Homo sapiens: one gene and its partners. The protein of the gene in region 1 interacts with the protein of each later gene in a pairwise test. Each region holds a gene or a part of one and is shown on either strand. Other genes may lie near its edges.

The links.
Region 2: the proteins of PRPF8 (region 1) and BCAS2 interact in binary tests that used the Homo sapiens proteins (3 or more experiments, as listed by UniProt).
Region 3: the proteins of PRPF8 (region 1) and HNRNPH2 interact in a two-hybrid assay, tested with the Homo sapiens proteins (one large-scale study listed by BioGRID and IntAct).
Region 4: the proteins of PRPF8 (region 1) and SERPINB2 interact in a two-hybrid assay, tested with the Homo sapiens proteins (one study listed by BioGRID).
Region 5: the proteins of PRPF8 (region 1) and ABCA1 interact in a two-hybrid assay, tested with the Homo sapiens proteins (one study listed by BioGRID).
Region 6: the proteins of PRPF8 (region 1) and DSCAM interact in a two-hybrid assay, tested with the Homo sapiens proteins (one large-scale study listed by BioGRID and IntAct).
Region 7: the proteins of PRPF8 (region 1) and SLC22A2 interact in a protein complementation assay, tested with the Homo sapiens proteins (one large-scale study listed by BioGRID).

The regions. Positions count from the first base shown.
Region 1 is NC_000017.11:1,674,284-1,678,718, reverse strand, and holds part of PRPF8 (pre-mRNA-processing-splicing factor 8), read left to right. Parts: intron 1-66; coding exon 67-201; intron 202-1,024; coding exon 1,025-1,154; intron 1,155-1,546; coding exon 1,547-1,743; intron 1,744-2,007; coding exon 2,008-2,214; intron 2,215-2,348; coding exon 2,349-2,512; intron 2,513-2,664; coding exon 2,665-2,791; intron 2,792-2,906; coding exon 2,907-3,099; intron 3,100-3,379; coding exon 3,380-3,567; intron 3,568-4,038; coding exon 4,039-4,277; intron 4,278-4,435. UniProt on the Homo sapiens protein: Plays a role in pre-mRNA splicing as core component of precatalytic, catalytic and postcatalytic spliceosomal complexes, both of the predominant U2-type spliceosome and the minor U12-type spliceosome.
Region 2 is NC_000001.11:114,566,440-114,569,654, forward strand, and holds the end of BCAS2 (pre-mRNA-splicing factor SPF27), read right to left. Parts: intron 1,818-3,215; coding exon 1,691-1,817; 3' UTR 1,118-1,690; downstream 1-1,117. UniProt on the Homo sapiens protein: Required for pre-mRNA splicing as component of the activated spliceosome. Component of the PRP19-CDC5L complex that forms an integral part of the spliceosome and is required for activating pre-mRNA splicing.
Region 3 is NC_000023.11:101,410,835-101,415,181, reverse strand, and holds the end of HNRNPH2 (heterogeneous nuclear ribonucleoprotein H2), read right to left. Parts: intron 3,247-4,347; coding exon of another isoform or gene 3,194-3,246; coding exon 1,844-3,193; 3' UTR 1,049-1,843; downstream 1-1,048. Other genes in the region: RPL36A-HNRNPH2 protein, read right to left, coding at 3,190-3,246. UniProt on the Homo sapiens protein: This protein is a component of the heterogeneous nuclear ribonucleoprotein (hnRNP) complexes which provide the substrate for the processing events that pre-mRNAs undergo before becoming functional, translatable mRNAs in the cytoplasm. Binds poly(RG).
Region 4 is NC_000018.10:63,893,656-63,898,090, reverse strand, and holds part of SERPINB2 (plasminogen activator inhibitor 2), read right to left. Parts: intron 3,639-4,435; exon of another isoform or gene 3,555-3,638; intron 2,828-3,554; coding exon 2,708-2,827; intron 1,001-2,707; coding exon 872-1,000; intron 365-871; coding exon 247-364; intron 1-246. UniProt on the Homo sapiens protein: Inhibits urokinase-type plasminogen activator. The monocyte derived PAI-2 is distinct from the endothelial cell-derived PAI-1.
Region 5 is NC_000009.12:104,812,592-104,817,026, forward strand, and holds part of ABCA1 (phospholipid-transporting ATPase ABCA1), read right to left. Parts: intron 3,755-4,435; coding exon 3,552-3,754; intron 1,885-3,551; coding exon 1,836-1,884; intron 1,641-1,835; coding exon 1,527-1,640; intron 132-1,526; coding exon 1-131. UniProt on the Homo sapiens protein: Catalyzes the translocation of specific phospholipids from the cytoplasmic to the extracellular/lumenal leaflet of membrane coupled to the hydrolysis of ATP.
Region 6 is NC_000021.9:40,336,191-40,340,625, forward strand, and holds part of DSCAM (cell adhesion molecule DSCAM isoform CHD2-42 precursor), read right to left. Parts: intron 3,226-4,435; coding exon 2,929-3,225; intron 2,187-2,928; coding exon 1,911-2,186; intron 1-1,910. UniProt on the Homo sapiens protein: Cell adhesion molecule that plays a role in neuronal self-avoidance. Promotes repulsion between specific neuronal processes of either the same cell or the same subtype of cells.
Region 7 is NC_000006.12:160,237,746-160,242,180, forward strand, and holds part of SLC22A2 (solute carrier family 22 member 2), read right to left. Parts: intron 3,842-4,435; coding exon 3,729-3,841; intron 1-3,728. UniProt on the Homo sapiens protein: Electrogenic voltage-dependent transporter that mediates the transport of a variety of organic cations such as endogenous bioactive amines, cationic drugs and xenobiotics. Functions as a Na(+)-independent, bidirectional uniporter.

The DNA of each region.
Region 1 (4,435 bases):
GAGGAAGCCTGTGCTGACCGTGGAGCTGGTTTAAGCTCCAGGTCTGATGGGGCAATTGTATTGCAGCTGGCAGATGGATTGCAGTATATATTTGCCCATGTTGGGCAGTTGACGGGCATGTATCGATACAAATACAAGCTGATGCGACAGATTCGCATGTGCAAGGACCTGAAGCATCTCATCTATTATCGTTTCAACACGGTGAGACCTTGACTTTACTGACTTTCTTTTTTTTGAGACAGAGTCTTACTCTTGTCTCTTGGGCTGGTGTGCAATGGCACGATCTTGGCTCACTGCAACCTCCGCCTCCTGAGTTCAAGCAATTCTCCTGCCTCAGCCTCCCGAGTAGCTGGGATTACAGGTGCCCGCCACCACGCCTGGCAATTTTTTTTTTGTTTTGTTTTGAAACTGAGTCTTTCTCTGTTGCCCCAGCTGGAGTACAATGGCACGATCTTGGCTCACCACAGCCTCCGCCTCCCGGGTTGAAGTGATTCTCCTGCTTCAGCCTCCCAAGTAGCTGGGACTACAGGCGCGCACCACCATGCCTGGCTAGTTTTTGAAATTTTAGTAGAGATGGGGTTTCACTGTATTGGCCAGGCTGGTCTTGAACTCCTGACCTCAGGTGATCCACACTCCTCGGCCTCCCAAAGTACTGGGATTACCAGCGTGAGTCACCGTGCCCAGCCTCACTGGACTTAACTTTCTCAGATCTTTTTTCATGTATACATTTAGACAGGGCTCTTTCCAGGGACCTATTTGGAGAGCAGCTATGACTGTGTCCTTACTGCTCCTTTAAATTCACATGGGCGATCTTAGTTCCTGGTTTTTGCCTTAAGGTTTCTCATTTACCCTTTTGTTTTAGATGTTGAGGTCCCAGAGTTTTTTTTTCTTTTTACCCCTCTACTGCCATACCTACATTCCTCTGTATGTATATTATACATATATGCCCCACCTCTGCCCAGGTTTCTATTGTTGTTTAAATGCATTGCTAACTTGTATTCTTAACTTCTGCTTGGGATCGTAGGGCCCTGTAGGGAAGGGTCCTGGCTGTGGCTTCTGGGCTGCCGGTTGGCGAGTCTGGCTCTTTTTCATGCGTGGCATTACCCCTTTATTAGAGCGATGGCTTGGCAACCTCCTGGCCCGGCAGTTTGAAGGTGAGTGGTTTTCTCTGTGTCCAACTTCTCCTGTTATTGCTTCAAAAGTACCTGCCCCTGTTTGAGTCTGTTCCCTGCTCTTGTATGAGCACTCTTCCTACTGGATTGCCTTTAGGTCCAGTTCTGAAATGAGTCTGACCTAGTATTCTATTTCTTGGGCTTCCTTCTGGGGCCTTGAGAGGCAGTCATGCATTTGCAGGAGTGGAAATTCCTCAGAAGCATAGTTGTGAATGTTTAAGGTAGCTCGTCTTTTTGCATATGCTGGGCACAGGGACGCTTTGTTAATACCTAATTTTATTAATAACCATAATGAGTGAGGAGCATGAAGGTAGAGACCCTTATTGAAAGCAAGGAATCTTCCTTGTAATCCCCTTGGGACACTCTACTTCCAGGTCGACACTCAAAGGGGGTGGCAAAGACAGTAACAAAGCAGCGAGTGGAGTCACATTTTGACCTTGAGCTGCGGGCAGCTGTGATGCATGATATTCTGGACATGATGCCTGAGGGGATCAAGCAGAACAAGGCCCGGACAATCCTGCAGCACCTCAGTGAAGCCTGGCGCTGCTGGAAAGCCAACATTCCCTGGAAGGTGGGTGTCTCTTTATTTCCTTGGAGGCGTAAACATCCGTCTTTAGGGTAGGATTACCACTTCGGGAATCATTAGGGGGCTATCTGGCTCCAATCTCTTTTCTTTTCCCTTTTAGACAGGGAAAAGAAGCACCATGTTGCTTAGGCTGGCCTCAAGCTCCTGAGCTCAAGCGATCCTCCTTAGCCTCCTGAGTAGCCGGGACTACAGATGTGTGCCACAGTGCCTGGCTGGATCCTGGCTTGATTGTGCTTTTTGGACTTTTAGGTCCCTGGGCTGCCGACGCCCATAGAGAATATGATCCTTCGATACGTGAAGGCCAAGGCTGACTGGTGGACCAACACTGCCCACTACAACCGAGAACGGATCCGCCGAGGGGCCACTGTGGACAAGACTGTTTGTAAAAAGAATCTGGGCCGCCTCACCCGGCTCTATCTGAAGGCAGAACAGGAGCGGCAGCACAACTACCTGAAGGTTGGGCAGAGTAGGCTGGGCTGGGTGTGAGTGGTGGGGGAGTGGGCAAGAGGGAGGACTGTAGAGTTGTGACTGAACCTTGTTCTGGCAGGATCGGGCTGTAGCGGGAGGCTAATTTCATGTCCACCTTACAGGACGGGCCTTACATCACAGCGGAGGAAGCAGTGGCAGTATATACCACCACAGTGCATTGGTTGGAAAGCCGCAGGTTTTCACCCATCCCATTCCCCCCACTCTCCTATAAGCATGACACCAAGTTGCTCATCTTGGCATTGGAGCGGCTCAAGGAAGCTTATAGGTGAGTAGTAGGGTAGATAGGTTCCTGCTGGGAAGGTGACAGCAGGGAATGGCGTCATCCTCAGAGTCCAAAGAAAGAAGGTGTAGCCCCAGTCTTTCCTGGTTTTACTTCCTCCTAGTTTTCCCATTCACCCTTCCCATTGCTTTTGTCAGTGTGAAGTCTCGGTTGAACCAGTCTCAGAGGGAGGAGCTAGGTCTGATCGAGCAGGCCTACGATAACCCCCACGAGGCGCTGTCCCGCATCAAGCGTCACCTCCTCACACAGAGAGCCTTCAAAGAGGTGAGTGAGGCCTCCCAAGTTTTCTTTTTGGTTCTACCAAAGGTAGCAGTTGCCTTTGGTTCTACCAAAGGTAGCAGTTGGTGGATTGGTGTGAACCAGCCTCCTTGTCCCACAGGTGGGCATTGAGTTCATGGATCTGTATAGCCACCTCGTTCCAGTATATGATGTTGAGCCCCTGGAGAAGATAACTGATGCTTACCTGGACCAGTACCTGTGGTATGAAGCCGACAAGCGCCGCCTGTTCCCACCCTGGATTAAGCCTGCAGACACAGAACCACCTCCGCTGCTTGTTTACAAGTGGTGTCAAGGTAGAACTTTCATGAGATCGCCCTGTGAGGAACGGGGCAGGAATTTAGTTCTACGTCAAAAATCTCATCTGGGTAGCATGATTGGTTTACTCTCTTGATGCGTGGTAGTAAAGGGAAGTAGTGTTCGTGTTAAACTGAGGAAAAGCCCATAGTCAAAGCAATCCAAATGAATACGTGGAATCATAGTGGGATTGGTTATGGAAGGTAATGATAGTTCCTGTGGGGCTAGTCTTGCAAGAGGATTTCTAACCTGCTGGAGACCTGCCTTGCTACTCCTCAGGCATCAATAACCTGCAGGACGTGTGGGAGACGAGTGAAGGCGAGTGCAATGTCATGCTGGAATCCCGCTTTGAGAAGATGTATGAGAAGATCGACTTGACTCTGCTCAACAGGCTGCTGCGCCTCATCGTGGACCACAACATAGCCGACTACATGACAGCCAAGAACAACGTCGTCATCAACTATAAGGTGCGTCTCAGGCGCAGTAGCATGGAATTGTGTGTGGAGTGCTTGTCTGGCCCACTGACTCAGAATTTGCTGAGGAGGAGGCTGGGTGCGGTGGCTCATGCCTGTAATCCCAGCACTTTGGGAGGCTGAGGCGGGCAGATCACGAGGTCAGGAGTTCGAGACCAGTCTGGCCAACATGGTGAAACCCCGTCTCTACTTAAAAAAATACAAAAATTAGTTGGGTGTGGTGGTGGGCGCCTGTAATCCCAGCTACTTGGGAGGCTGAGGCAGGAGAATCACTTGAACCCGGGAAGTGGAGGTTGCAGTGAGCTGAGATTGCGCCAGTGCACTCTCAGCCTGGGTGACTGAGCACAACTCCGCCTCGGGAGTGGAAAAAAGTAGAATTTGCTGAGGGGAGAACAAAAGAGGTTAACTCTGGAGAATCCTGGGGCATGGCTCACATTCTTAAGAATTGTAGTTCTTTCTTTCTAGGACATGAACCATACGAATTCATATGGGATCATCAGAGGCCTGCAGTTTGCCTCATTCATCGTGCAGTATTATGGCCTGGTGATGGATTTGCTTGTATTGGGATTGCACCGGGCCAGTGAGATGGCTGGGCCCCCTCAGATGCCAAATGACTTTCTCAGTTTCCAGGACATAGCCACTGAGGCTGCCCACCCCATCCGTCTCTTCTGCAGATACATTGATCGCATCCATATTTTTTTCAGGTGAGGGCTTTCCTGGATTCCTAGCCTTGCAGGGTACTGAGGCATGTGCTTTGCCTCTGAAATCAGCTATTGTACCTGAGTTGACTTAACTGCTGTTGGGGCTTTAAAATGGAATGAAGCGGCCGGGTGCGGTAGCTCACGCCTGTAATCCCAGCACT
Region 2 (3,215 bases), on another chromosome or scaffold:
GCAATCCCGTCTCTACTAAAAATACAAAATCAGCCGGGCGAAGTGGCACATGCCTGTAATCCCAGCTACTTAGGAGGCTGAGGCAGGAGAATTGTTTGAACCCAGGAGGTGGAGGTTGCGGTGAGCCAAGATCAGACCATTGAACTCCAGCCTGGGCAACAAGTGCAAAACAAAACAAAACAAACAAACAAAAAGAAATGGGGCTCTCAATTGTATTAAGGTACTTTCGAAAGTACTAACCATTTATCAATATCACAGATCAAAAAGTTCTAGGTTTATTTTGTATTATAATGAACATCCTTTTATTTTTTCAAAATTGAAAAATAATTTTTAGATTTTTCAAATTTATATTTATCAGTTATTGAGATGAACACCTCTCAGTAATTTTTTTTTTTTGAGACAGAGTCTAACTCTGTCGCCAGGCTGGAGTGCAGTGGTGCAATCTCGGCTCACTGCAACCTCTGCCTCCTGGGTGTAAGCGATTCTCCTGCCTCAGCCTCCCGAGTAGCTGGGACTACAGGCGCATGCCACCATGCCCAGCTAATTTTTGTATTTTCAGTAGAGATGACGTTTCACCATGTTGGCCAGGATGGTCTCGATCTCTCGACCTCGTGATCTGCCCACCTCAGCTTCCCAAAGTGCTGGGATTACAGGTGTGAGCCACTGACCTTGCAATAATTTTCAGTCAGTCTTTATACATTAAGACTACCTTGCTTCGTTTGAGACAGGGTCTTGCTCTGTCACCCAGGCTGGCGTGCAGTGTCACAATCATAGCTTATGGTGGCCTTGAACTCCTGGACACAAGTGATCCTCCTGCCTCAGCCTCTCAAAGCACTGGGATTACAGACGTGAGCCACCACACCTAGCAACACTACCTTTTGATATGTTGCAAATATTTTTTCTGAATTGGGCAGGAATCTTTTACACAATTTAATTCCTTACAAGTAGAGAAGTAAGAACATTAACTCTGGAGCTGGACTATTGGGTTCAAAACCTGACTGACAACTTTCTATAAAAAAGCTGACACTTTCAGCTATAAAACTCTGGCAAGTTATGTTATTTAACTGGTGTCTGTTACATGTCCACATATGAGAAAAACAGTAACCGCCTCCTGAGGTTTTTGTGAGGACCAAATAATTTTTATTCACATACATCTAGTTCATCTACCTAAAGTGTTCAGAACAATGTTCAGCACATATTAAGCTTGATATAACTGTTACCTATGATGATGACGATGATGATGATAATGATAACTGTACAGTCACTGTCTTTCTGAAGTTGTTTGGTGATCAAGAATGTGTTTAGAACTATCTCTTTATTAGACAAAGTCATAAACCAAAAATTTCCAACTTCCTGTACATGTTGAAAGCTTTAAATAAGGATCCTTGGATACAAAATATGGTCCACATGGCTGAAAATTAATTCTATGACACAATATTATTCTAAAGTCATCCTTATTTTGAAAGCCTAAAGATTTTCTTTTATGGCTATAAAAATACCACCAAGCTAGACATTTTAATTCTGTTGAGATATACAAATAGAATTACCACAGCAGCCTACACCTTCTATGATTTCTAAACACTTAAACATCAATGGTTTTGGGAAGATGCTGTTGTCCTTCAAAGTTCATTAAAAGTTCAGATGCCTTTTGTGAAAGCCCAACTTTTCTTCTACCTGCTAAATTGTCTTTTCAGAAGTCTTGCCGGATGTTTTCTTTGTTTGCCTCTCCATGTTGCTGCTTAATTTGATAGATTTCATTTTCTAGCTGAACAATAGTCCGTTCAATCTCATAATTCTTACTGACCAGGGATACCCAACTAGAATGGGGGGGAAGAAAAGAAAAAAATTACTCAATGTAAAACTTCTCTTAGAAGATTTTATTTTAAATGTATACACATGTTCACCCAGAGCTATAACACTAACCTTCACTTTTTTTTTTTTTTTGAGACGGAGTCTCGCTCTTGTTGCCCAGGCTGGAGAACAATGGCGCAACCTCAGCTCACTGCAACCTCCGCCTCCCGGGTTCAAGGGATTCTCCTGACTCAGCCTCCCGAGTAGCTGGATTACAGGCACACGCCACCACAGCTGGCTACTTTTTTGTATTTTTAGTAGAGATGGGGTTTCACCACGTTGGCCAGGCTGGTCTCAAACTCCTGACCCCAGGTGATCCACCCACCTCGGTCTCCTAATGTGCTGGGATTACAGGCATGAGCTACCATGCCTGGCCTAACCTTCACTTTCAACTTTCCATTAAAAAAAAATCAAGGCACAATTGTGGAAAAGTAGGTAAAGGGTACATGGAATCTCTCTGTATTCTTTTTTTTTTTTTTTTTTTTTTTTCCAGAGACAGGGTCTTGCTCTGTTGCCTAGGCTGAAATGCAGTGGTGTGATCACAGCTCACTAGCCTGGAACTCCTGAGCTCAAGCAATCCTCCAACCTCAGCCTCCTGAAGAGCTTAGACTACAGGTGCATGCCATCATGCCTGGCTCATTTAAAAGCATTTTTTTGTAGAGACAGGGTCTCGTTATGTTGCCCAGGCTGGCTTGAACTCCTGGCTTCAAGCAATCCTCCTACCTTGGCCTACCAAGGCACTAGGATTACAATGTGAGTCACCACACCTGGCTCTCTGTATTATTTCTTACAATTGCATGTGAATCTATAATTATCTAAAAATAAAAGTTTAATAAAAAAGCAAATTAGAAACAGATGAGAGAACTTGCAAACCAGAAGAAAGAGGAAAGAGTGATGAAGATAGTATTTAATCAACAAAAAGGAAAGAGGCAATAGTTTATTAAATTGAGGAAAAAGCGTGAAAGGGTACCAACGAGACTGGTAAGACGTACATGGAGACGGTGGAACAAGAATGACTTGAGTAATGAAGGGAGAAAGGGAATGGCCAAGCAAAAAGGAAGAGAGAAATGACACAAATATTCAAGATTATATTGTATAAAGGTATACATGTGTGTATGTAAAAGAACATTTTTAAAAATGCATAAACCTGAGGTACAAAAAAATTACCAAGTATGAAATCTCCCTCCCTACAAGATTTTATAAAATAATTTTTTTCCTTTTTTTTTTTTTAAAGACTAGGTCTTGCTCTGTTGCCCAGGCTGGAGTGCAGTGGTGTGATTATGACTCACTGCAGCTTCAACCTTCCAGGTTAAGCAATCCTCCTGCCTCAGCCTCCAGAGTAGCTGGGACTACAGACATGTGCC
Region 3 (4,347 bases), on another chromosome or scaffold:
ATCAGCACACAATGCCACAGCAGCTCAAAATCCTCATTAAGAGGTGCGAGGTATTGTAAATATGTGGTTTGGACTTTAACAGAAAATTTAAACTACTTGTTATGGGAACAAAGGGGAGGCAATCAGGGATCATAAAGGAAGCTGCTCCTTAAAGTTGCTGTTTGGGGAACTGTGATGGGTCTCAAAACGTGGTCTTGAGACCAGCAGCATCAGCACATTCTCAAGCAACATCCCAAAACTACTGAATTGGAAACTCTAGGGATGGGGCCTAGAAATGAATGTTTAAACAACCCCTGCAGATGATTCTGATGCACATGAATGTTTGAGAACCGCTGGTTTAAGATAAGCTTTAGATGCCCTAAAATACACCTGAGAGTGTTTATAGAGAATCTACTAATGAATTCATGGAGGAGACAATTTATTTCCATAACATAAACCTGCTTCTTTTTTATGTTTTGTTTTTAACACATAATTGTAAGCCTACTTCTTTTTAAACATACAAACGTGCCTTCTAGTTTGTGGTGAAATAAAAAGGATTATTTATTTGCTTTCACTTCTTTGGATTTTAGAGAATACTATCTTGGTAAGTACAGTCTCCAAAAGTAGCTCAATAGTCCTGTAGACATGGTAAGTTTTTTTTAAAAAAGAATGTACAACTTTAATATTAATCAAAAAAATACAAATTAAAATAGCAATGAGATATCATTTCTCAACTAAAAAACTGGCAAAGTTCAAAAAGAATAATGTGCATCAATAAGGAGGGTATAAGGGGGAAAATAAAACACACACTCCAAGTAGAAAGATAAAGTACCAGAATCTTTCTGGTAACACAAATCAGAAGCCTTAAAAATGAGTATATCTTTGACTCAGCAATCCCATTTCTAGGGATATATCTTAGAAATAATTAATGATATATGCAACAATGAACATATAAAGATGCTAAATATCATTTATAATTTTAAAATTAAAAATCTTAACTTTGAGGGAATTGTAAAGTCAATCAGTGTGCCCATATGACAGAACATAATAAAAATCAATCAGTTCAAGATTTTTTCCAGTTTTTAAAAGGAAGATTTATTTAACAAGTTTCACTTAGTACAATACATCTAAATGGAAATCACAATACAAGGAAAGATTTAAACCAAAGCCTCAGATTTTCATACAAACGACACGACCAAACTTCTAAAGTATTGGTATTACATCTTAAAATTGTCCCGTATCCTTAAAAAAAAAAAAAGTGTACACTCACGTGCCTTACAGGATATTAAACCAAAAAGCTAGAATTAACAAACATGCCAAATGTTTTCACTTTGAATCGTAGACACAGCTCCTATATTTGAGTTTTACAGAAAGGCATGTTTCTCAACATGCATCCGAAGTTTTCAATGTATTTGTGGTATAAGAGCAACATTTAACATAAGTGAAACTGCATTAACCTAAATACGCTTACTGCTTAGGTACACTCCTACAACATAACTAACTTGAGGAAAGCTAAAAATTGTTTTAACAGTTATGGTCAATACTGAACTTTGTTATTATGTCCTAGATGAATGTTTCAGTGTTCAAAATTACTGAGCTTGAAGTTTTAAAATAATCTCAACTTCCACTTTACAGTAAGCATGAATCACAAGCCTGTAATGCAAAACTGTTAAACTTAACTCGTTTTCTTAAAAAAGGAGAAAGAAAGATAAAGAAAGAGAAGCTGACCAAGAGTGATCAGAATCAATTATATTTCCCATTTACCAATCATACTGGATATACTAAACATCCCTCCCATTCTATTCAACTCCCACAAATGTACAGCTTTTATATCTGGAGTAGCTATTTAGTGCTCCTTCTCTACCTAAGCAAGGTTTGACTGATAGTCACTGGAGTTTTCCTGCAGAACTTGGTCATATCCACTCATACTGCTCTGACCACCATAACCACCTCCATAACCACCACTCAGCTGCTGGCTAGCAGGACCTCCATAACTAGACTGGTTGGATAAGCCCATCCCTCCCATCATTTGGCTACCATAAGCGCCACCACTTGCCCCTGCTGTAGAATTCAAAAAAAGTTCTACATAGCTGTGATCGTAAGCACCCCCACTTGTTCCTGCAGTAGAATTTAAGAAGAGCTCCACATATCTGTGTTGCATATTAGCTTTGTCTTTTGCCATAGCTGCCACAGCATCTTCATGAGTAGCAAATTCAACATCTGCCTCACCGGTAACTCTGCCATCGGGTCCAATTTCAATATGTACTCTCATGGGATTAAGAGGTGAGAAGAAATTATAAATATCATTCTCAGTGGCTCTGTAAGGTAACCCCCTCATGTGTACACAGTGCCCTGTGGTGCTCTGGAAACTGGACCCACCATCTCCGTATCTATGATCAGACATTCCTGAAAAACAGTAATTGAGGTCTCTTCCAAATCTATCAGACCCAAAGCCATATCCATCATTATAGCCACCATAGTCATCATAGCCTCCATACCCTCCACCATAGGCACCACGCCTCATCCTTTCAAACCCAGCTCCTCTGCCAATGCTATTATACCCTCTGCCAGCCCCCGGCCTATCATAGGGACCTGGCCGCTGCATAGCCATGAGCTTTCGAGGGGGATCATAGTGGGTTCGAACTTCAGCTCGGCTACTCTTGAAGATCTCAATGTACCTGTGCCCTATTCTTTCCTTGTGTTTCTTTAAGGCCTTCTCAGCTATCTCCTGTGAAGCAAACTGCACAAAGGCTTCCCCTGTGCTTCGCCCCTGAAAGTCCACTGGCAGTGTCATCCCATTTGGCACAATTTCCAACCCTGAAAAGAACTGAACAATCTCTTCCTTGCTACAGCCAAATGGGAGTCCTCTAAGCCGGACGAAGCCATCGTTGGCAGTATCAGGGCTATTCGGACCTGTATGCTTCAACACCCAATCCATTTCAACACTGTTAGACTTGAATACTTCAACGTATCTGTGTCCCATGGTTTCTCTGTCCTTCTTCAAAGCCAATTTCACTTCCTCTTCAGATTCAAGTTCAACAAATGCTTCACCACTTGGTCTGCCTTCTCTGGTGTAGATGAAACGAATACCTGATGTGCCATTTTGGATCTTGCAATCAGAGAAGAAGCGCATCACTTCATCGGCTGAGCAGGACCAGGGTAGGCCCCTGACCTTCACCACGAACCCCTCCCTGCCTTCCGTGCTCAGCATCATGGTGATTGTTGGGCTCTTGGTGGCAAGTTTGGCTCAATGCAATTTTGGTGTAGCTGAAAAAAAAAAAAAGAAGACTACTGTCATGGAAAAATGCTCGTGATATAGTAAGAGAAAAAAGCAAACTATTAATAGAAAATTCAATTATGCTGACAGCTTTTCTGTAAGACGTCTGTATAAACAGAGAGTTCACCAAATTTTTAACTCATTCATTTTTTAGCAGTTATTTATTCAATGCCTATTACGTGTTAGATACCATTAAAAATTAACAGCAATCGGCCGGGTGCGGTGGCTCACGCCTGTAATCCCAGCACTTTGGGAGGCTGAGGTGGGTGTATCACCTGAGGTCAGCAGTTCGAGACCAGCCTGGTCAACATGGTGAAACCCCGTCTCTACTAAAAATACAAAAAATTGGCTGGGCGTGGTGGCAGGTGCCTGTAATCCCAGCTACTCGGGAGGCTGAGGCAGGAAAATCGCTTTTATGTACCCAGGAGGTGGAGGTGAGCCAAGATCACGCCACTGCACTCCAGCCTCAGCGACCAGAGCAAAACTCCGTCTCAAAAAAAAAAAAAAAAAAAAAAAAAAAATTAACAGCAACAAATCAGTGGGAGATGTCAACAAATAAAAGATGGCTATATCTGAATATATAAACATAAAAAACTTCACTAGATCAAAAGATTAAACAACAATTAAAACACAAACAAAACACAGGTTATGTAAGTTCTTTATATAATATCTTCATTATATAAAAATGTATGCAAATCAATAAAATCAGGGAAATATTTGGGCTCCAGAGATAAATGAAAAAAAGACATTATTGGGAATTCACACATTCATTTTAGAAACATTTTTTAGTTGCCATGTCCAATATTCGGCTCTGGCATACAAGAATCAATAAGCCCAGAATGGGCTTATGGTCCTACAGGAGCACCGAATGTCATTATTAAAGATGTAAATGCAAATATACATTATACTTGCCATGACCCTCTGAGTGGAGTGTAAGCATAGTATCAAAGAGGGACTAGTTGATCAGTTCTATTGGTTGGAGGCCAAATGGTTAAATGAAACAGACTAATCTGCCCAGGGATCCATAAACATTTTTTTTTCTTAATTATGATGAAGCACAAATAGGAGAGGGAAAAGCAAGTGAAAAGACT
Region 4 (4,435 bases), on another chromosome or scaffold:
ATCCTCAAGCAATATCCAAAATCAAATATTTAAGTACTAAACATATGTCTTCTATTAGTAGGCCTCAATTATTTCTTCTCAGTTAAAACACCACTGAGCTAATCAGGAATAAATTCACATCCACCAAAGTAACTGCAGTTGGACAAATTGTAAAGGGGTGAGGGCTAACTAAGTTCATGGATGGAAAAAGATAGATCAGAGTTTTCTAACTGGAAAGAAGTAAATAAAATATTTTCTTGGATTTACCTTTGGTTTGAGTCTTGACCCAGGAATTAATCTTTTTTCTAGCTTCTTCTGCACATTCTAGGAAGTCTACTGCCTGGGGTTCTGAGGAGTAATATTTCTGACAGAGTCGAATATATTCCTTTAAAGCAAGAAAATGACAAAGGCTACATAAAATACATACCAAACAAGCCATGGCATAATGGTGAATTATGGTCTTCCCATTGAAATTAGGAGACCTGGGGTAGGGTGGGAGTGGAGGTTGGCTATGGAAGGCAGGTGCTGAAGGGGGAAAGAGTGCAGACCCCTTTGTCCACGCTTACTCCCCAACTCTATCCACCCTCTTGTACTCCTTGCATTATAGAGACAGAATAAAAGGAAAGAGGTTTGACTTGGGGGATAGTGTCTCTGGAAAACAGTTGCATTTGTTTTCCTGATTTATGACTCTGAGATTGGGACATTTGCAATGGGAAGAGGAGGAAGCCCCAGAGGGTACAGGAAGGGCAGCTGTTACGCAAGGCCAGCCCTAGGGAGCTGGTGTGGAATTCCAACTCTGCTTTTATGAACTGTTGAATTGTAGAGAACTGCTTTGAAAGTGACTTCATTACTTGTTTGGGATCCAGCCATTTCAATTACAGGTTTCACTTACTTCCCGGAAGCTCGCAGACTTCTCACCAAACAGCTTATTGACACTTTCCAGTAAATAATTCCCTGTGGATGCATTGATTGCAGAGCTGAGAGAGCGGAAGGATGAATGGATTTTATCTGCAGCTTGTGCCTTGAAAAGAAAGAAGGAATTCTTTATATATAACACAGAACTACTAAACAAGATAGTTCTTAAGCCATGGTAATAGTTTTTGAATACAATCATGAAATGCTATATTAATACATACTTTATTTTTGGTACATTAGAGGAATCTTTGAGAAAATCATTTCGATAAGGATGTGGTACATTAAAACTAATAAGGTGAATTTTAATTTCTTTCCAATTTTGCTCTGTCTATGGATTGGATTTAACCAGGTGACCAACAGCCTAGAAGAAAGGCCCCTTCTCAGTTTCCTAAACTTCAAAGTCTCTAAGGAATTTTTGTTGTATTTATAAGATGGATAAGTTCTGGGGATCTAATGTACAGTATAATGACTATAGTTAATAAGATTGTGTTCATTAATAGTTATAGTTAATAAAACTGTTTACTTGAAATTTGTGAAGAATATATTTTTTAAGTGTCCTCACTATACATACACACATACATACAAATGGTGGGTAATTGTAGTGATGGATGTGCTCATTAATTTGACTGTAATCATTTCACAATGTATAGGTATAGCAAGTCATCACACTGTACATCTTGAACATGTACAATTTTTATTTGTCCATTATACCTCAGTAAAGCTGGCAGGGAGGAAATGTTGCCTTAGTAATGATCTTACAAAGTTCATATAGCTTCTCTAGATACCTATTTTATGGGGCAAACTATGCAGTGGAAAACATGGGTTTTAGAAAACCACAAAAGTGAATGGTTATTTCAGTTCTCAAACTGAAGTTTGTAAGCACCATGTCAGACACAGGGCTTGGTCACAGCAGCAGCCTGTCCTAGGGCAGGGGACAGAGCCCTCCTGATGGACTGCCAGGTACCACAGAACACCTGGCGGAATCTCCACATGATCAGGATCCTGTCCACCTCCTCTAGCCCATAATTCCCTGGGCAATGGGTAGAAGGAGCTTCAGAGTGCCCAGGAAGAGAGCTTTGGGAGATACCTCTTCATAATCTACCTCATAAGCATGACTGTGGAAGTTGGTTGCCAACAGGAGCAGTCTATACTCAGTTTTTATAATTTAACTGGATAGCTGACATTTAAGGAAATGGAGTACTGAGGAAAGGTGTTACTCCCCGAGATAGCTGATTGATAAATAGATAAGATAGACAGATGACAGAGAAGATAGATGATAAATAGATGATTCATAAAATATATAGATAGATAGGATTGATAGATGTATGATAGGTAAGATAGATGAGAGAGATCAATGATAGATGATAGATTAGATAGATAGAAGGAAAGTTACCTGAAGGTCAGTGATTTCTCATGCAATCATTGGGCCCAGCCTTCTGCCATTTCTCAATCAATTGTCAGTCCCTACCCTCTCTCCTCTGGAAATCCTTATCCATACACGTGTATTCTAGGAGTCTCTACTGTGGATTTATGATAAATTACACATACCTCACCAATGACAGAGAGGCATGAGAGAATTTAGAAGTAAATAGGCTTGGCCTAAAACTCATGAAGTCTGGATTCTGTCCTGGCTCGTCTCTCGTTATGGGTATCATCTTAGGACATGTTTTTCTTAATGACTCTGAGTCTTAGTTTTCTTTCTGTGAATGGGGGAGGGTATATTCGCTTCCTTCCCAGTCTGACACTGTGGCTTTAAGACAGGAAGATTGCAAAAATAAACCACAAAAGAAATTTGGACCAGTAAGTCAGATACCTGCAAAATCGCATCAGGATAACTACCCTTCTGGATCTGCTGCATGAACCCACAGCTGGTAAAGTTCTCTGGAGTCATGGGGGTAACTGCATTGGCTCCCACTTCATTAAACTGAAGCACCTGCAATCAGAATTAGAGAAAACGGTTACACTTGCCCACGGATTTACTGAACTTTTAAAACAGATGGCTATCAGGTGGCTCTAAAATGGTCCTAGATCTTTTCCCTTCCCTTATACATGGGGAACAACCATAGATACTCAATACTCTTTCTGTGTAATATAAAAGTATCAGCCAACCTAAATTTCCCTTATAGAAAACAGCATGAGGTGTTTTAGATTAATTTATATCCTGGCCATTTTGGAAAACAAATTGTTATTATGAAATGATTTAAAACCTCTTCCCCAAATTATCTAAATTATATCCAACCAATAAATGGTCTTGAAAAAAAAATGCCAGTATTTTAAAGAAAGTCACAAGATTAACTCAGAACCTTGTGTGTCTCTCTCTTTTCAGTGGCCTTATACACAAAATACTTTCAATCTGTCAAAAACTACAAGCCAGAGTCAGCTAAGGCATAAAACAGGTCATGCAATATTAACAGGGTTCACCTAAAATATTTACACATACCATATTCATACACAGAGAAATTTATGTCCATGTGAGGGACAAGTTGGTCTGATGACACTGTGAATCTCTTCGTATAGTAAGTAGGCAGTTTTGGCTGACACGGGGAAGCTGGCAGCAAGGACTGTCCCCTCTGAAGCTTCCTCAGATCCCCTTCCCACAACACTGCTGCCTGCCCGCCTTGGTCTGCCAGTCTTAATACCTGCAAGCTGGCCCTGCCTCCCAGCCACCCACCCCATCCCACCTCCTTGGGAACCCTTGGTCCTGCAGCACCTCCCTATGGGGTCCCTGAGGAGAAGCTGATCTGGTAAGTGGCTTGATGGTTGGGGTTCTGCTAATGAAGTTAATTAAGGCAGCCTTGTCCAGCAAGTTGGTGAATTTCTGGGCTAGAAGGAGAGGTGTTAGGGTTTGTGAGGTCTTTTTCTGCTCTTTGAGTCATACATCGTAAGTCCTGCCTAGTACTCTCTGAAAAGAAGTGGTGCAACTCCACCCTCACGTAAAAGAAGAAGATTTCCTACGACAGCTTGGCTGGTTTTCCTCTCTTCCAAGGAAATTGACCCTTAAATCAGGGTTCTTTGGGCTAGCACTAAAGCCTTCCTGAATCAGTGTTAAAGTCACTCAGGGAGATGTCCCTGCAAAAGTGGGACTGTGAGCTGCCCCTAGTCCACACAAAGGCCACAGAGAAAATAGTGAGGCAGTTTGGCCTGGATGGGTCTGTTGCCTCACTGTAAGGAAAAGAGCTTATATCCTAATTCCCACAGACCTATGCCATCCAGGAGCTTATATCTTTTATGTATTCTTTTCTTTCACTACAAATGTACCACTTCTAACAGCTACAGCAATTCTCAACTGTGTGGCCTCTTCTTGCCCTGATTCCCTCATCTGTAAAATGAGTACGGTAATCATCGTACCTACCTCATAATATTTTGTCTTATGTGAGTAAATTTATAAGAAGTTCTTAGAAAGATGCCTGGCTAAGGCACTAATAAGTATTGGTTGTTATTATAGCAACTGCTACTAAGTGCCTTACATAGTACCTCTAATCTTCACAACTTTCTTGCATGCTACACATTTTTATTCCCATTTTGTAGATGAGAAAACTGA
Region 5 (4,435 bases), on another chromosome or scaffold:
CCGACTCCGTCTGGCAATTAGCAGTCTCTTCCACAAAAGGGCCACAAACTGTTGCTGTGTAAGTTTCCAGCCTTTCACCTGGTAGGACCCTTTGCCATCCATCCCACTGAGCAAGTCTGTCTCTCTGGATTCTGCAAGAAGCCAACACTGAAGGTCACCTATTATCTTAGGTGTTTTCGGCATTGCCATGCTCCTTCTTCTGGTGTCTTCAACAACTATCTTGAAGGCATGTGTCTGAAGCTAGAAGTTTCTCAGAAGTAAAGGGCTTTCATGACAAAGCTATGTCCAAGGAAAAGCTTGACTCAAAATGTCTAACAGTAGCAGTCTCTGCCTTTCAGTCCTTGTCTGATAAGTACAGAAAAGAAAGGTGTCTTGAGACAACTGAAAAGAGGTGTTCATGCGTAACCAGGTGTTACAGCCAGCCATTCGGATGAATCAAGTCATCAATTTCTTATAGACTACTCTATGAAACAGGCCATGTACGTAGCTTGACATATTTGAGAATACACAATGGCAATTAGCATCTCAGCTTCTCACCCTATTATATTTTGGTAAAACGTGGACACATTTCAAATGATCTAAGTACTGATACTGTATGAAGTCAGGCAGTTATATATAATGTAAGAGCCATACACTCTTTGAGCAGGGGTGAGAGAACTGGAAAGTTTTCTGTTCCTAAAAATTTTCTAGAAATCCTTGTCCTAAACTAATGATACCTAACTGATGTGCTTTTACATCTTAACAATATTTGTTTGATGTCTTAGCTCTCCTCTCCATCTCAGTTAAACACACAAAGACACACTCATCCAAAATATCTAATTCTTTTTTTTTCTTTTTTGAGATGGAGTTTTCACTCTTGTTGCCCAGTCTGGAGTGCAATGGCGCAACCGTGGCTGACTGCAACCTCTGCCTCCTGGGTTCAAGCGATTCTCCTGCCTCAGCCTCCCAAGTAGCTGGGATGACAGGCATGTGCCACCACACTCGGCTAATTTTTTGTATTTAGTAGAGACGGGGTTTCACCTTGTTGGTCAGACTGGTCTCAAACTCCTGACCTCAGGTGATCTACCCACCTCAGCCTCTCAAAGCGCTGGGATTACTGGCATGAGCCACCATGCCCAGCCTCAAATATCTAAGTCTTAGGGTACAATTAACTCTAACAGCAAATTCCCCTTTCTGACTCTTTCAAAATCACTCATCTACTCGAATGAATATTTGTTCAACAATTAAACACCTAATGTATACAAGAAACTAGGACCCCGCAGAAAAGATAATAAATACATGGGTTCAGAGGATTGAGGCACCATCTTTATGTCTTTAAAGGAAGTGATATGGATAGGCTCTTTCAGGTTTGATCACATGCACGATGCTGCAAAGAACAAGTGGCTTTTACCATTTCCTCACTTCTCTTTGGACTCTGTAGGGATCTATCACCTTGGCTAAAGGCCATCCAAAGAAAACAGGTGAGAGCATGAGAGAGAATTTCACATTCAAACAGTAGGACACTGTTTGATCTTGCCCTAACAGACCTGGGTCTATGTCAGAATCATTTGGATCAGCAGCATCATCTTCAGTGAACGGGCGAAGACAGCTCTGCTTGTCCCCGAAGGCCCGCCTGTTTCGTCTTGCTGGCAAGGTACCATCTGAAGGCACAAGGAAAGAATCCCATACTTTATTTTATTTACAACAAAACAAACCTTCCCCATCTGCAACAAACCTACACTCTACAAATGAGAATGCAATAGAACAATTCAAAGGGAAAGGAACAATACTCGTGCACTGAGAAAGCCAGCAGAAGGCACTATCTTAAGTGTGCCATTCTCCCTCAAGGCAGTTACCTGAGGTCTCAGCATCCACCCCACTCTCTTCGGCCACCTTGAGGAATATCTGGAAAATGAGAGAGATGAGAACATTATAAGCACCAACATTACGAGAGTAGTCACCACTGCCACGATTATTATATTACTGAGTGGCATGTTAGCCCCGTAAGACAGAGAAAGTAGAAGCCACATTTCTTAATAACACTTTCTCAGAGTTACCTGGGAGAGAAGCCGTTTTTGCCAGAGAACATTTCCTCAGTGGTGAGAGCTATCAAGCTAGACAATCATTTTCAAATTAAAGTTATGGCTGAGCGCTGTGGCTCAGGCCTATAATCCCAGCACTTTGGGAGGCCGAGGCGGGCAGATCACCTGAGGTCTGGAGCTCGAGACCAGCCTGACCAACATGGATAAAACCCATCTCTACTAAAAATACAAAATTAGCTGGGCGTGGTAGCACATGCTTGTAATCTCAGCTACTTGGGAGGCTGAGGCAGGAGAATCGCTTGAACCTGGGAGGTGGAGGTTGCAGTGAGCCAAAATCGCACCACTGCACTCCAGCTTGGGCAATAAGAGCAAAACTCCAGTCTCATCAAAAATAAAAAAAAATTTAAAAAAAGCTATGACAGACACTGCGCAGAAGAAATTTATTCTGAACCTACAGGGAATGAGTCAAGTGGCTTCTTTCAGGACTGTGGCTCTAAATCTTTGAGTAGGCTAGTACTATGATAAGTTATCCAAGACAGAATGAGCAGGAGGAAATAGAGCACTAGAAATATGATGGCAGCAATTCAAACATCAGAAGAGAATCTGAATGAGCGCAATCATTTCCAAACTCTAGTCTATAGACCACTGTGTCCAAAGTATGCAATAGAAATACAGACTTCAAGGCCTCACCTCCAGAAATTCTGATTCACAGGCCCTGAAGCCAAACCTTAGTATGTTTATTTTTAATAATATCCCCAGGTGATTCTGCTGCACTGTCAAGCTTGGAGACCACTTGGCCAGACAGCTTTTATATCCCCTTCAGCCTTCAAGGTCTGTGATGTTGTATCTCTAAGGGGAGGCATTACATGGATAAAGAGAGGATGGACTTTGAAGCCCCAAACCCCTGATTCTGAATCTCATGTCAGCATTCCTGAGTGTTCATTTTTTCATCTTTTTTTGAGAATTAAATGAGGTCACAGTGATTAAAAAAAAATCAAAAAACAAAAAACAAATCTCAGCACCTGGCACAAGTAGACTATCCATCCATAAACGTTTGTCATTTCCTATGTATGAGAATCCAGTTGATACCTGGCTGTGACACAGTCACACCAGAGAATTGCTCCTGATTCTGATTCAGTAGGTCTGAGCTGGGCCCAAGTTGCTGAATTTCTAACAAGTTCCCAAGTGATCCTGATGCCGCTGTTCCTCACACTGTACTTAAGTAAAGAGGCTCATTAAAGGGTAAATAAGTGCATAGGAGTTTAAGGTTGGGATGTAAATGTGTTAGGTACCACTGGTTTCAACACACAAATCTCAGGCATGTACTGTGGTACAGAGGAAAACACTTCTTTCCTGCTATCTCCCACTACCATCTTAAATGGCTCACTGGGGCCAACATTAATCAGATGTCGATGACCTAAAAACTCAATGACTAACTCCATGATAATCCTGCTCCCAATGCAGGCTACTGGTCTGGCCTTAGGACATTTGGCCTTGCTATATATTCCGACAGTCAGCCACTTAACTTACTTCTTCCAGGGTCGTCTCTGAGATGCCATAACTAGAAATGCCCAGGTCTGAGAGCCGGTCATCAATCTCATGAAAGAGTTCCACAAAGGCTCCCTCCTTAGCAGCTTCATATGGCAGCACATAGGTCAGCTCATGCCCTATGTCTTCCACCAGCCGGGCTTCAGACACATGCTTCCTGATGAGGTTGGAGATAGCAGAGACATCTGCAGGGACCAGAATGCAAAGATGGCTCAATCAACTCAGAGGGGCTTCGGAGTGAGGGCTGGCCATCCCCCACCCTCTCATCAGAGGCCTGCCGCTCATACACCACACCTGTTCCAGGTGTTTAGGTCATTCCACATGTTCATCTCTGGTCTGAGGGTTGGGGGCAAAGGAAAGGACTATGTCTTATTCACCTTTGTATCACCAAAGCCAGGCACATTATAGGTACTCAGTGTAGAATGGGTGGACAGCTGGATGGGTGGATGGGTGAATGGGAGGATGGGAGGATGGAAGGATGGGTGGGTGGGTGGGTGGATGGGTGAATGGATAACTGAGGCTCAAAGTCTGGTGTCTATTGCCTAAGCTCTGGGATTCTTCAAAAGAAAACTTGAGTAAAGGAATCTTAAAAGATTCTTCACCCTTTCCTATGCTTATAAAGTAGGTTCCCTCATTTACCTAAATAAAGGGTTAATCTAACAGTCCATGGAAGCAGAAGCCTTCCTGGGAAAAGCCAGCCATTAGGACTAGGCAGAGATAGCAAGGGTCAAGACTTCTGTTCCACATATGCTACTGGTGACACTGGCCTCCTACACACGCTACCCAAGAAAAATCTGGAAGGCTGTTCCTCATCTCCTGGGCTCTCACTCTTCTTATGTACTAAGCTCAAATCCCACCCTCCTGGC
Region 6 (4,435 bases), on another chromosome or scaffold:
CCAGCTGCTTTTCTTCATGGAATTCCATTTCTTTCTTAAAAGAATGGCTACCTAAAAACGATGGTTATGCGGTCTTTTCTATTTGTCAAACAATTTCTTACAGATAAATGAGCCCATCACTCCTACAATTACAATTGATGGTGTTTATTATAAATAATAAAATTGAATCTTTCAAGAAAGAATAGAATTTTAGAAAACTTGCATCCATCAGCATGAACTTGACAGTTTACTTGAAGACTTTCTGATGAGATCATGGTAATGTTAGTAGTTGTGATATTTTGATATTGTATAACAAATTGTATCAACATTTGGAAGATCTGTGTAACACAGTGAACCAATCATTTCCAAATGATCAACTTTTTATGTTACAAAATCATGTGTGGGTAAAACATTCCTTCCAAGGGTATGATAGACCAATGAATTTTAAGATGACAGAGTACAGAAAATGTGTTGATATGGCATCTGACTATTGCAATGAACCATTAAGATACTGCCATGTTTTAATTCTCTGCATAGTATGGAGTACCATTAGGTGTTTTCTGGTTTATTCACTTGTTTTATTTGTTTATTGTTTGTCTCTCCTGACTGAGAAGAGAGTCAATGAAGGAAAGGACCTTGCAGACCTTTTTCATTGTTGTATTCCTCAGTGTCTAGAGTAGTGCCTGGCATGAAGCAGATGTTCTGTAAATGAGGATTAAATAAATAAACACAACCACCAAATGAACCTTTATGCAGCCTGGTTTACCAAGAATATCTAGTGATTTGAGGAAATTCTCAAGACATATGGTTATTAAAAACCGATTTATAATTATGTGCAGGCATATCTAATATACAATGCACAATACATATTCTATAATATATAATGTAATGCAATATATATGCCCCGTAATAATAGTATACACATATTATTATTTCCATGTGTGTGTGTCTGTATGCGTTCTCACAAAAGTAAAACTCACAGGGTTGGTGGGAAAAGAAGCTTGGGGAAGACCACAGGAAACCTATGCAACTTTGTAACAAGGGCAACTAAAAGCCACTTATTGGTTCCTGGAGAGAGAACTTGGACACCTCAGACAGGCAGCTCAATGTGGCTAGAAGCAACACCCACAGGTTTCGGAAATAGTTTTATAACATATTAGTTCTATTCCTAGGACCCACCTCAGGTAGATTCCTTACATAATTAAAACAATTTTATTTCATATTCAGCTCAGGAAACTGACTTGTAGAATAGAAGAAATGAGTCTTTCTGAGGCTCTGCCACTAAAAGTCTGCGTATCCTTGGATGAGTCTGATCACCTTATTGTTTTTTTCTGGTAAGGAGATTGTAGTCAATTCAAATTGCAGGATCTCTAAAGATCATCCTGACAGGTAGATTCCATGACAGTCCATGTCATGATGCAAAGAATAATTTAATGAGGAAAACGTTCTGTGGCATCCTTTAAACATATAATTTCTATGTTGTTGCTTTGACCTGCTCATCTACAGAAGATAAGACGTTTGTTTGAAATCCTCATCCAATACAGAAAATCCCTTCCAGTGAAGTTCTAAGAGACCTTGCTTTTAGGAGGTTTTAGGAAAAGAAGGTTATTTATTTAAAAATTATCTGAGAGATGACTAGATAATGAAGCTAATGATGTGCTCCTTTTTTTTCTGTTGTATTGTTAACAACACATGCCCTCTGGAAAACCAAGCCAAAATTCCACCTGGAGAGAAAATCAGATCAACTAAAGTTCCTGTGAAGATTCAGTCAGTAGTAAAGAGGACATCTCATGTTCCCTGTCATTCTTCAGCCTGTACAATTATCCTGCTCTAAATAAGCAGATCTTGGATTACCCGACTTCAAATCATTGGTCTGGGAAGTAGTCGGGCTATGGAATGAGTTGTGTGGGAACCAGGAGAACAGGGCTTACCTTTCACGGTCACGTGGACGCTCTGGCTGGTGGAGAGTTGTGGTTGAACCAACACGTTGCACGTGTACTCCCCCTCGTCCACTTCCTTTTGCACATCTGAAAGTTTAAGAGTTCCATTGTTCTCAAATGCCACTTGGCGGTGGTTGAAAGGAAGCAGGTTAGAGTTCTTGTACCATTTAATGGAGTAATACGGATAGCCAATCACACGACAGTGAATGTATGTGTCCCGTCCTGCTATTGCTGTGATGTTTTTCATTGGTCGAATGCTTGCAGGCCCTGGAGAGACACAAAGAAACTCTTGAAAATAATTTAAGGGTACATCTCATGTAGGGAAATGGGTACACTTTTCCTTGAGTTAAAAATGTAGATTATATTCATGTAAGCACATCTTTTTCAGTTAAACAAATATTTTTGCATGTGGCATTTTCTACAACAAAGGTTTTTCTTTCCTTTTCTTAAATTCAAATGTATAACTGTGAAACACTTTATCTGCTACTTCTATGAAAATGTTTTGAATTAAAAATTACAAGATAAAAGGCAATTTAATTAATAGAAAGTAACTAGTCTATACTGGACAATCACGCACTTTTGGTGAACACACTGGCAGCAATTGATCAATTGTTTAACTCTCTCTGTAAAATCTAGGACGACAATGGAGGTTACATCACGTTGCAGCATGAATGTAAGTTTAATACCATGTACATGAAGGTTTACCATGAATGTGGAAGAACCGAAGAGAAGGAGAAGGGAAAGGGCATGCAGAGCATAAACCAGGAAAGGAAACATCAGGTGAACAGATCTAGAGTAAAAAAGAACAAGCTGACTACAGAAACCAAAATGCCATTTCCAACATTAACCCAGTCAGTGCCATTCCTGAGTAGGAAGGAGAGGGTAGGAAATGGGAAGCAACAGTTAATCCGCTCTGGCATTCCAAGACCCAGCTCGGTGCATGCAGAAATCTTCTTCTCCACTATAATGAGTTATGTGTGTTTTTTTGAGGAGCTGATTTGACAAGCACCTCTTACGTTTATTCGAGCCTGGTACAGGACGACTCCCGCCGAGTTGTTGGCAGTGCAGCGGTAGACTCCCCCGTCCCGGACCTGGGAGCTGGAGATGTTCAGGTAGCTGACCACGTTCCCCTCCGACGTGATCATCTGGCTGATGCGGTGACTGCCACCCTTGAGAATCGGGTCATCGTCCAGGGTCCACGTGATCGTGGGCAAAGGTGTTCCCTTCACGTTGCACATAAGGGAAACCGGCTCTGCTGGACTCACCACCTTTTCACTAAAGGCAGAAATAATTTTGGGAGTTCCATCTGCAGGAAAACAAATTATGGAAGAAAGTGGCACATACAAATAATTAAACAACTTCCAAGTATATGTCTTTCATGTCTAGGGGGTAAATGTCGTAGTTGTTAAACATTACCAAAAAGGTCTGGTTTTCCTGATAAAGCAAAACGTTAATCAGAACAAGAGTTCACTGTTTTCAAAACAGGTAAGCACAGTGTTAGCAAGCTTTCATCAACTGTTTCTATATTTCCTGATTGACTTAAGAGGAATGGTAATACAACTCAGATGTTCAGGTTAAACAATGACAGCTCCTAAGAAGTCCTTAATTTAAAACTGGTGTTTCCTCACACAAAGTTATAAACAGACGGAAAATCCACACCCGCTCACTCCCACAAACAGTCACTTTATCTGTTAGGTTGGTGCAAAAGTGATTGCAAAAAGTAATGGCAAAAACAGCAATTACTTTTGCACCAACCTAATACTTCCTCAAGTTATTTGGGGTTTTCTCACTAGGGAATTCTTTACAGGAATAAAGGAAACTACTGAGAGATTGATGACCTCATCTTCATCATTTTCTCATAAGAAATCCTCTTTTAATAACTTTAATTACAAATAGTAATTGCATGCAAACTTCCATGAAGTCTCTGAGAATGGGTAGAAGCTAAATAAAGTTTGTATTAAATGCCGTGTATTAAAAACCTCTAAAGATATCTTAAGTAGGGTACTTAAGCATGTTTTAAATCTCTCTAAAAGTATCTTAAGTAGGCTGGCCATATAATTTAACATCCAACCTGGGACACTTTTGAGGCTGAAACAGAAAGGACTAATAATTATGCCAAGAGAACAGGCATGACCCAGAACTATCGCAGGCAAACTAGGATCTTAATCTTAGAGAAGTCTCCATAGAAATTTTCAGTATGTTTACATAGATCAAATTTTCATATTCCATTATTTTTCTATCATCCATATGGTTTTTTCTCTTATATAGTAATAGTTACAAATGCATGTTTCTTTTATATATGTTTTTCCATTTATAAAAAGAAATACATGCATATTAAAGGAAATGTATGAAAATCAGAAGAAAAGTTACCAATAGGTCAGCCAGCCTCAGGCATACAAATCAACACTGTGACACATTTTTTCTAGGCATAAGTGGGTCATTTTGACATAATTGCAATCACATGCCACAGGATTTCTGAGTCTGGTAAGAGACCTTGCTGGAGGGGACATCTTTTG
Region 7 (4,435 bases), on another chromosome or scaffold:
CCCAGACAGTTAGGCATTCTAAGTCACAGGATGAGATAGGAAGTTGGCACAAGATACAGGTCATAAAGACCTTGCTGATCAAACAGGCTGCAATAAAGAAGCTGGCTACAACCCACCAAAACCAAGATGGCAATGAGAGTGACCTCTGGTTGTCCTCACTGCTACACTCCCACCAGTGCCATGACAGTTTACAAATGCCATGGCAACATCAGGAAGTTACCTTATATGGTCTAAAAACGGGGAACTCATAAATAATCTACACTTTGTTTAGCATATAATTAAGAAATAACCATAAAAATGGGCAACAAGCAGCCCTCAGGGCTGCCCTGCCTATGGAGCAGCCATTCTTTATTTGTTTACTTTCTTAATAAACTTGCTTTCACATCACTCTGTGAACTCGCCCTGAATTCCTTCTTGTGTGAGATCCAAGAACCCTCTCTTGGGGTCTGGATTGGGACCCCTTTCTGGTAACAGAGACAGGCTTGTTATGAGGCTGAAATGAATTAATATTGTCAAAGGCTTAGAATAGTGCCTGGCACATGGTATATACAGTGGAAGTGCCTATTAAATAATTAACCTCTCAAAATGTCTCCAAGCCTCCCAAGATTCACTTGGTTATTGTATTGTAAGTAATGCAAACAAGAAACACATTCAGCTGGCATCTGAATCTCTGAAGTGAGTGAATCATGATGAATACAACTGATTAATAAAATTACCATTCGTTTGGCATTTTATATTTGCAAAGACAGGCCTAGTTAACCAGAATAATCCTTGTTGATTTTTCCAGTGCTCTTTCAGCCAGGATTTTCCAGTGTGTTGACTTTCAGTCTTCTTTGATTATCGTTTTATGGCTATTTCAAGACCACAATTAGCACACCATTATTGTGTGGAAAAGAAAGAGAAAGAAGTTAAAATGAAAAACTATTAGGTTTTCTTTCCACTAGCCACTCATACTAAAGGTTAGTGAGGGAAGAATATGAAATTACTTTCAAGAATAAAATTAGAATTGTCTTTGAGTTTACTTTAAATATTGAAATGTAGTTATAATCCTTTATCTTTCCTGCAGGAAGGTGTCAGGCAGGAACAAGGGTCAATAAAGTACTATTTGTTAAATAGTACTTAGAGAAACATGAAGTTGTCAAAGTTGTTTGAACCAGAGTGACTCTGTCTTGGACAGGGGCTGGGTAAAATGGGGCTGAGACCTACTGGGCTGCATTCCCAGGAGGTTAGGCATTCTTAGTCACAGGATGATAGGAGGTCAGCAAAAGACACAGGGTCACAAAGACCTTGGTGATAAAACAGGAAGTGGTAAAGAAGCTGGCCCAAACCCACCAAAACCAAGATGGCGATGGAAGTGACCTCTGGTCATCCTCACTACTCATTATACACTAATTATAATGCATTAGCATGTTAAAAGACACTCCCACCAGCACCATGACAGTTTACAGATGCCAGATGCCATGGTGATGTCCGGAAGTCACCCTATATAGTCTGAAAAGGGGAGGAACCCTCAGTTCCAGGAACTGCCCATCCCTTTCCTGGAAAACTCACGAATAATCCACTCCTTGTTTAGCATATAATCCAGAAGTAACTATAGGTTACTCAACTGAGCAGCCCATGCTGCTGTTCTGCCTATGGAGTAGCCATTCTTTATTCCTTTACTTTCTTAATAAACTTGCTTTCCTTTTACTCTATGGATTGACCTCGAATTCTTTCTTGTGCAAGATCCAAGAACCCCCTCTTGGGGTCTGGGTCAGGACCTCTTTCCAGTAACGAAGTAACCATCTGCTATCCAGAAATGTCCTGCTGACCCATTAGTCACCCACTGTCCACCTAAGGGAGTGGCCAAGATTGAGTGGTCTCTAACTTCCTCCATGGCAGGAAGGAGGACAGAGGGTTTGATGGGTACCTCCTCATGATGAAAAGAGGGTTCTGAGGACAGTTTCCTTAGCCAGTGTTGGGGGAGAAAGAAATAGGGGTCACATATGTCTCAGGAGTAGCACCAGCTACTCTGTGGCCAAGTTATCTCAGGATAAAGAGCTTGTGCTCTGTCAACTTTGGCCATCTTATTGCTATTAAACTGGATCATGGAGGAATTCATTGCATCTGTTTTGCAGGTAAGTTCCATCAGTGGTTTGGAACTTTTGCTGGCAGATCTAGAGTGGTGGAAAATTTTCCCCCTCACAAATTCCGTGAGAAGAAGGGGAAGAAAAGGAATGAGCAGGGTAGCTGTGTGGGGCATTGGGCAGCCTTAGGAGTGAAGTGGTGGGAGCTTCCCCTGATAACGGAAATGAGTGACTGAGGAAAATGTCCCAGTCAGTCGAGGTTTATTAAGTCAGCTTTAGGGCATGTCCCTGAAAAGCAATGAGCCACAGACACATCTGTGGCTGTTTTTACAAAGAGGCTTTCAGGAGGTTGGTATTTATACATTTCCTTAAAGTAGGGAGGCAGGTAGGGAGAGGGGCAGGTAGGCCGTAGAGGAATGTTTCCATCCTTGTGAGACTTTAACTAGTGCCCAGTTAAATTTACATTTTACATATGATAAGGTGAATGTTTAAAGAGAAAATGGGAGTAAAGAAAAGAATCAATTATGCAGGCCTCTCTGAGTAGGTGGAGGAATGACTGATCTTGTCTTTATTCTGTACATTGGGAAATAAGCTTGCAATCAACATTATCAGTGTGGAATCAGCAGACTTTAGTTTTAGAAGCTAAGCTTAGATTGTAGACCTAAAATTCTTGTCTACAGGAGGCCAGCAAAGAATTTACTTATGAATGACCTGCAGGGGTGGTCCTTTGTAGATAACTGAGGCATGATGTATAATGCTTGTAACAGCTATTCATCTGGAAGAGGGTGTTGCATGACTCAACCTCCAGGCTTAGTCTTCCCTTTTGCATAAGGATTCTGGGGGTCCTGAGATTTTTAAATTTCCTTTCCCTTTACACCCTCATGTACATCTGAGAGTGAAATCTCTTCTTCTTCTCTTCCCCTAAATTGAGTGCTATATGCCCATGGGAAAAAGCATCACATATTCAATTAAAAGCAGCTCAGAATGGGTGTCAAAGGAGCCTGAAATGGGTGCATTGAGGTGTTCCAGTTAACCAGAGAAGGCTCAGTGCTGGTGTGTTCCTGCTGGCAGTAGCAGAAGGGAAGTGCTATGTGACGCTCCTGAAATCTAATTGCTCCAGGTGCATCAACACAGGTGCTCCATTATGCTGATGCATTTTCTTAATGTGGGTCTTTATTTCCTCTGGGTTTTGAAATTGCCTTTTGCAAAATTTTAACCCCCTTCTTTGAAGTAAGAAGTAAAAGGGCTTGTGTTTTACCACCTCTGGGCATGGAGGAGTTAACTCTTTGACAGAGACCTCAGGAAGGGTGGAAATCAGCAGAGAGAGAGTTAGGGGCCTGCTGCTGGGAAACTTTCTTCCTTCTCATTCTTCTCTTCAACATTCTGCCTCTATGGCAGGAGTCCCATACTTGAGTATTAGTAGTGATGATAATATTATGAATACTGAACTAGTATTATTGATTAGTATTACTAATACTAATAATATTACTAATTACTAGGCACATCCAGGAAGAACGCAAGCCACAGACACATCATTACTACTATGAGTAGTAATTAGTAGTTACTAATAGGCATGACACCTGTTTTGAATGAAGTAGAAGAGAAGTGAAGGTCTCTAGAAAAATAAGTTTTCACTTAAAGACATCTGTGAAGATTTCTTACCGAAAACCATCAGCGGGAGCTCAAGCCAGATGTTAGTGAGCCGGTAGACCAGGAATGGCGTGATGATGCCACCAATGTCACACATTGAGGAACAGATGTGGACGCCAAGATTCCTAGAATGCAGGAAACTGATTTAACTTGTTAACTTATCACAGTGCAGTAGTTATCTCCCATCCACCCCTGAATAAACACTTCCTCAAATAATTAAAATGTTCAAGAGCTATAGTGTACACTGCTCAGGTGACGGGTGCACCAAAATCTCAGAAATCACCACTGAAGAACTTATTCATACAACCATATACCACCTGTTTCCCAGAAACCTATTGAAATAAAAAAAAAACACCAAAAATAAAATGTTCAAGAGTTTAAAAAAACATTCACGTTATTTTCAATGCACAATATTTTATATATATATATATATACATAATTCCATTCATATTCTGTCATTCTTGTTTTGTATAAACCTTAAATTTTTTTTTAATGATGGGAGGAGCAATTGTTTCTTTTTACTTCCATCACCTGGCTTCCCTAAGCTGTTTCTATGGACCTGTTTGTGCTGTTCCACAACAATCTCCCCTGTAGCCATTGGGTAATCCCTGTCTTGCAATTCAATTTTCTGTTCTCACCATGGCCTCTGTATTTTACCCCAGCCTGTAAGTGTGAGAGGTGAACTGCTGGGCCTGGCTGGACCTTTACGTGTTCTCACC